Homo sapiens: one gene and its partner. The protein of the gene in region 1 purifies or fractionates together with the protein of each later gene. This does not show direct contact. Each region holds a gene or a part of one and is shown on either strand. Other genes may lie near its edges.

Evidence for each region. Proteins that work in one complex are often made in the same cells at the same time.
Region 2: the proteins of CUL2 (region 1) and COPS9 purify together in Homo sapiens (affinity purification with mass spectrometry; 2 studies listed by BioGRID and IntAct, with this or other methods). This does not show direct contact.

The regions. Positions count from the first base shown.
Region 1 is NC_000010.11:35,010,342-35,013,841, forward strand, and holds part of CUL2 (cullin-2), read right to left. Parts: intron 3,460-3,500; coding exon 3,358-3,459; intron 1,624-3,357; coding exon 1,507-1,623; intron 102-1,506; coding exon 1-101.
Region 2 is NC_000002.12:240,130,328-240,133,305, forward strand, and holds the end of COPS9 (COP9 signalosome complex subunit 9), read right to left. Parts: intron 762-2,978; coding exon 724-761; 3' UTR 501-723; downstream 1-500.

The sequences.
Region 1 (3,500 bases):
GCCTGGCTGCGTTCTATGTATTGTTTGTCTATCAGAACTTCAATACACTTCTTAATCATGCTGATACTGGGATTAAACCTAGCTCTTGACTGGCTAATCACCTGTGGAAGAGATGTGGAAGTCAAACTACTGCCAGTTCTTCAGCTATTAAGTAATGACTTTTAACCAATCAGTTTAAAGTGCCTCAAATGTACTGAGGTTTCAACAAATGGGCCAAATTAAGTATGAAAATAGGAACTACAATGTGGAAAATGGATACAGCAAAATCTAATAATGATACATAATTAAGTGAAACAATAAACTAATTAACCTAAGTACTCACACACAACCCCAAGCTTCTATTTAACTCAACTCTCAGCTCTTAGTTCAAACACTTTCTCAAGAAAGTTTTCCCCAGCAGCCCCTAGGCCAGGATATTTAAATACATTCTCATAGTACTGTATACGTTTCCTTCAGTGCATGCTAATGTAATTTTACATTTATTTGCATATCATTTCAATAGTGTATTTCTTCCCCCATTAAACTGTGAACTCCAAAAAAGCCTGCCATATCTTCAGCTGCTCTGTGCTATATCCCAGGGACCAGCCCAGCTGTCTATCACATGGTAGGCTCAGATAGTTATGGAATGAATGAATATCTGATGGGTCAATTTCCTTCAATAACTGGACAGAAGACTCAATGAATCAGCAAGTTTTAGACCTCTAAAATAAAGCCAAAGCAAATATGAATTTATTATTATCATTTGAGATAGCATCTCACTGTGTCACACAGGCTCAATCCCTGGGCTCAAGCAATCCTCCCGCCTCAGCCTCCCAAGTAGTTGGTACTACAAGTGTGCCGCCACAACTGGCTAATTTTTTAATTTTTTAATTTTTTTTTTTTTTTTTTTTTAGGTGAGATGGGGTCTCCCTGTGTTGCCCAGGCTGGTCTGAAACTCCTGGACTCAAGTGATCCTCCTGTCTTGGCCTAACAAGACATTCAGATTACAGGTGTCCACTGGGCATGGTGGCTCACACCTGTAACCCCAGCACTTTTGGAGGCCGAGGCAGGTGGATCACCTGAGGTCAGGAGTTCGAGACCAGCCTGGCCAACATGGTGAAACCCTGTCTCTACGAAAAATACAAAAATTAGCCAAGTATGGTGGTGCACGCCTGTATTCCCAACTACTCGGGAGGCTGAGGCAGGAGACTCACTTGAACCTGGGAGGCAGAGGTTGCAGTGAGCCAAGATCACGCCACTGTACTCCAGCCTGGGCGACAGAGCAAGACTCTGTCTCAACAACAACAACAAAAAGGATTACAGGCATGAGCCACTGTGCCCAGCCTGCAAATCTGAATTTAATACTGAAATTGTGAGTGAGTACGATTCTGATTAAGTATGAAACATTTCTTTATGCTATCTGAGGATCAGGTTATTTCTGTATCCTCTTTAAGAAGAAAGAGACTGAATCTGTACAATGACAATGCCCTCTACCCTAAGAAGCCCTGAGGACTGCCCTCCTTTTACCTCTTGAATAAGGGCATTGTGCCGAAGCACTTTTCGTGCTTTCATGATACGAACTATAGCAGCTTGGAGATACATTTTCCGGTCCTCATCAACTGCACTTCTAGTCTGCTCCATTTCCTGTTTTACAGAAGAAAAGAAAAAAGACCCAACAAGACATTAAGTCACTGAACTTGTTTTCAATTCATTTTATCAGTGAGTGCAAATACTTTTTTTTTTTTTTTTTTGAGACAGGGTTTCACTCTGTCGTCCTGGCTGGAGTTCAGTGACTCGCTCTCAGCTCACCGCAACCTCCATCTCCTGGGTTCATGTGATTCTCATGCCTCAGACTCCTGAGCAGCTGGGATTACAGGTATGCACCACAATATTGAGCAAATTATATAGTTATGTTGTGCCAATATCACATAACCACTGCTAAAACATCTACAATTTCTAGGGTTAAAGTTGAAAGATTAGAAAAAAATTTACATTATTGTAAACTGTACTGTTAAGGTAAAGAGGCAATAAAGGAGGACACAGCAATAATTTGCAAGATCATTTTCTTATCAGTGATTACAGAATCTTTCATGACGCTTTTAGATGGAGTTGTGTCAACTGCAGTAATTAGCTCCAAATGCATACTGGATCAGGCTTCAAAGGGAAGAGCTGTGAAGTGGCATTTTATGTGGCTCAAGCAGAGAAGCCAGGAGAGGGGGCCTATCTCCACGGAGCTCAAGAAACACAGAAGCAAGGCATAGAAGCAGACCATGCCACATTAAGAGGATCTCCTCACAGCGTTTCAAAGACAAAATACAATCTATATATTGCAAATTATTATTTATTAGCCTGGAGGAAAATGGAATCTTGACCATTTTAGGTTTCAAAGTAAATGGCAGTTAATATTTGTCTCCCCCCATCGGGAATTAAGTTTCTGGAGAGGGTCTAACATCTTATATTATCTTCACATCCTGCATCAGCCCAAGGACTGCACACCGGAGGCAATCAGGAAGCATAAGTGATAGAAACAGTCTATCCCAGACCAAAGCAACAATCACTGCTGAGTTAAAATAATGAAGAGCAGAAGTCCCCTCCTCACACTGGCCTGTCAGTACCTCACTCCACACCCACTAGATCACAATCTGCATTTGAACAAGATGCCCAGGTGGCTCATTTGCATATGAAAGTTTAAGAAGCATTTTCTACTGACAAATTTTCTTTGAAAGAAATGAGCTGTAGGCCAGGCGCGGTGGTTCACACCTGTAATCCCAGCACTTTGGCAGGCTGAGGCGGGCGGATCACGATGTCAGGAGATCGAGACCACCCTGGCTAACACAGTGAAACCCCGTCTATACTAAAAGTACAAAAAACAAAATTAGCCAGGCATAGTGGTGGGCGCCTGTAGTCCCAGCTACTCAGGAGGCTGAGGCAGGAGAATGGCGTGAACCCGGGAGGCAGAGCTTGCAGTGAGCCGAGATCACACCACTGCACTCCAGCCTGGGCGAGAGAGCAAGACTCCGTCTCAAAAAAAAAAAAAAAAATGAACTGGAGAACTTTCCCTTATTTTACAAATGAAAAATATGAAATTTTATTACTTCTCAATGTGGGAATTTTCGGAGAGAATGCATAGTTACACATTCTAATGGTTTAAGAGCAAATACAACAAAACCATACCCTTTTCCTTAGAAAAAACTAAAATACAAGTAGAGATTTCTGTTTGACTGTAAGGTTAATAAATGCCAACAACAAACCAGAAAAGACATATCCCATTATTAATTTTGCTGTGCAAAGTTTTGCACAATCTCAATGTAAACACTTGTAAAGTCCAATGCTTAAATGTTTCCCCCTCAAAAAAAACTTGACATTAAAAGCACTTACTTGTGGTGTGTCTTTCTGCATTGATGTAGTAATTTTAAATTTTGTTCTTTTACTGCTAAAGTTCATATTTAATGAAAACGAAGATTCTGCATCAATATCTTCCTACATTTAAAAATAAAACATTTATATTTATAAAAACCAAA
Region 2 (2,978 bases), on another chromosome or scaffold:
CAGCAACTTCACTGCTTTACAGCCAGTATCGACTACTGAGCTGGGCCTACAGGAAACAAGACCCCTCTTCCCACATGGGCGTTACACTCTCCTTTGAAATGGACCAATGTGCATTTCCACGTAGAAGGCGTCTCCTGCAGTCGCATCCTGTCGTCCTAGTTCTTAAGCCTAGGGGCAGCTGCCCTGACGTGGAGGCCAGAGGACAGCATAAGGACGACTGTGCTGACAGACACACACAGTGGGAACCTGCCCACACAGCAGAGGGGCGGCCCCGTGGCAAGGTCCTCCAAGTGCTGTCAGCAGGCCCAGCTGTGCACGGGCCGCGCTGCCTCCTGCTCCAGCACATACAGCACCTTAACACAAGGTATCTGCTACCAGACAAATGTGGTTCTCTCAGCGTGCTGACAGATGCACGCACATGCATGCACACACAAACACACAGAGACGTTTAGGGACTGCAACATTCACTCATAAGTGCAAGAAAGAGATCACTCCACATGTGACATTGCTTTCTTTTAATTGGAGTGAGGACAAAACCTGATCCCGTTCAGAGATGAACAGAATCATCTAGGTCGTTAAGAACAGTCTTATCTTTCTGGTTAACCAGGTCCTAAATTCAAGGGATTTCCACGTGTTCTTTAAAACCACCTGAAACTGTCCTGCGCAGGCTCACACTGCGGCTCTGTACCAAGGGCTTGGCCCCGCCTGCAGCCAGAGGGCATCTCACTGGATGTCATCATCATCAAAAAGATCTTCAAAATCTAGGGAAATAAGCAAAACCACGTAGTTACACCTACAAGGGTAAGGGCTGAAGAAATCACTTCAGAATGAATTATATAGTAGTCCAAAATACAGAGATAATCGTCAATGATCCAATGAAATAAAAGACTTTTCCCGTAACAGACTTTCAGTTTCAGCCAACCAGGGCTCGTACATGTAGTCCAAGGGGAGAGTGTTGGCTAGAGTGCTTTCTAGCTTTCATTTAAAAGACAATCCTAAGAAAATGCATGCAGGGCTGTTCTGAGTCCCACGGACACCACCGCACAGCCACAACTCAGCACTCAGGACACGCCAGTGCCGTGTCTGCACCCACGAGTGCACGGGCACCCAAGATGCTGCCCTCGCTGCCGGGGCCGGGGAGAGATGAAGCTGGGAGGCACGTGCTGGGTCCTTGAGAGCAGAGGGAAACCAGCCGGCTGCCGCTGTGAGCATGAGAAAGCCGGGCTAGGCTGCAGAAAGGTGAAGCCTCCAGTAAGGGAGCGTGAATGATACTCAAGCCTGAGAAACACCTGCTAAGGCCCATTCTCACTGGAAGAAACGCAGCAAACACGTAGTGCCCTGCTTTGGGTGATCAAAATCAGGCCCCCCAGGAAAGATTTTGTCCTTCTGTTTAGTCTTCTGTGTTTTTCAAATTCCCTACTACAGGCAATCATCACTTTCACAATGGGAGGTGAAAATACAACTAAAAGCCCACCCACATGTACTGCGCACTGAAAATGTGCAGTATGAATTATGAACTAGAAAGAGGAGGTTCAACTCCTGGAGGGTCAGAGCGAAGAGAAAGGGGCCTGCTGGCACCACAGCATCCAGCCTTCCTGGGGAGGGTGGCGTCCCTGAGGCATCTCTGGATACTGCAGAGGGTCCCGACGCTCCCCAGCCACACTGATGCACCCCCACGTCCTCACTGCCTCCCGACTGCTGGTTGTGGTTCGCCGCTAGGAGCACTTTTGCGCAGTCCTGGGCCTGGCTGACTCCACACCTTCCGACCTCTGCTCTGCTGCCCCCTCTGGAGAAACCTCCCTCTGCAGTGCTCCCAGAAACAATGCCGTCCACGCTTTGCCAGGGCTCTTGTCACAGTCCAGCCCCTGCCTGCTGACTTGTCTGGACCCACAATTTTGTAAGACATGGCGAGGGAAGAGAGAGTGTCTCTTTCGTGGCTAGAACCCTGGTGCCCAGGGTGTAACAGCCCAGCAAACCCATCTGTTTGACGAGTAAAAAGGACTTAGCAAAAGCCTCATCCACAGCCCACAGAGGTCTCTCAAAGTAAATGGCTTCTTGAACACATGGGGTTGTCACAACCTGATGGGACAGTGAGTGCTTTGTGAACTTAGTGGGTGGGCAGGCAGGGGACACAGAGCTCTCCTGCGTCCCCTCCCTGACCGGCCGTGGCTCAAAGGCAGACACGCGCCCACAATGCTCAGGTTGCTGGGCGCTCACCTGACGGGTAGGACCTGGGTCCCTCTCAGAGATGCTTTCCCGTCAGGATTCAAGGGCTGACTCTGGAAGTCATGTGAACTCAAACACTAGAACACAGCAATCGCCTCTAACCAATGGGCTGGCAGAGGATAAATGGGACTTTGAAGGAGATCATCAAAATGCAAGCGTGTGGTGCCAGCATTAGCAACTGCCCAATCCTGCCCACGTGAAAAGCTTCAAAGTCGCCCTGGTGAGCTGGTGTTTTTGCAAAGCAGCTTTGGAGAGCGCTCTGCAGCTTTGTACAATTTGTTCCCTCTGAAGGCAACACCCTTCTCCCACCTCGCTCTGGCATAAAGAATTGAAATAAATGCTATTCAGTTCTCCAGGCTCATCTCAAATGTCATCTGCCTCAGTTCTGACTCCAGTTGGTAGCAGTAAGAATGCTGCCTCAGGGGCATGGCCAGGCACCCTGGGAAAGCCTGCACCCCAACTCAGCAGCTTGGCTGCTCCCCTCAGGCAATGGCTGCCTGACAGTAAGCCTGATGAAGCAGCAGGGACTCAGGATGGCAGGGGGTCTCTGGTAAATTAGAAACCGATGTGGCAAGCTCAGGTCCTAGCTGTTAACTAGTAACAAGAGCTTTCTGTAGAGAAAAGCACCATGGATTAAACCAGGATGAAAAATGCCACCTCACTCTCTGGAGTAAGAAACCTATCTTATTTACTTATTATTTGAACCCTTAGTAAAGGTTAATATCATCTATAGGAATAAGGCCTGAAGAAAT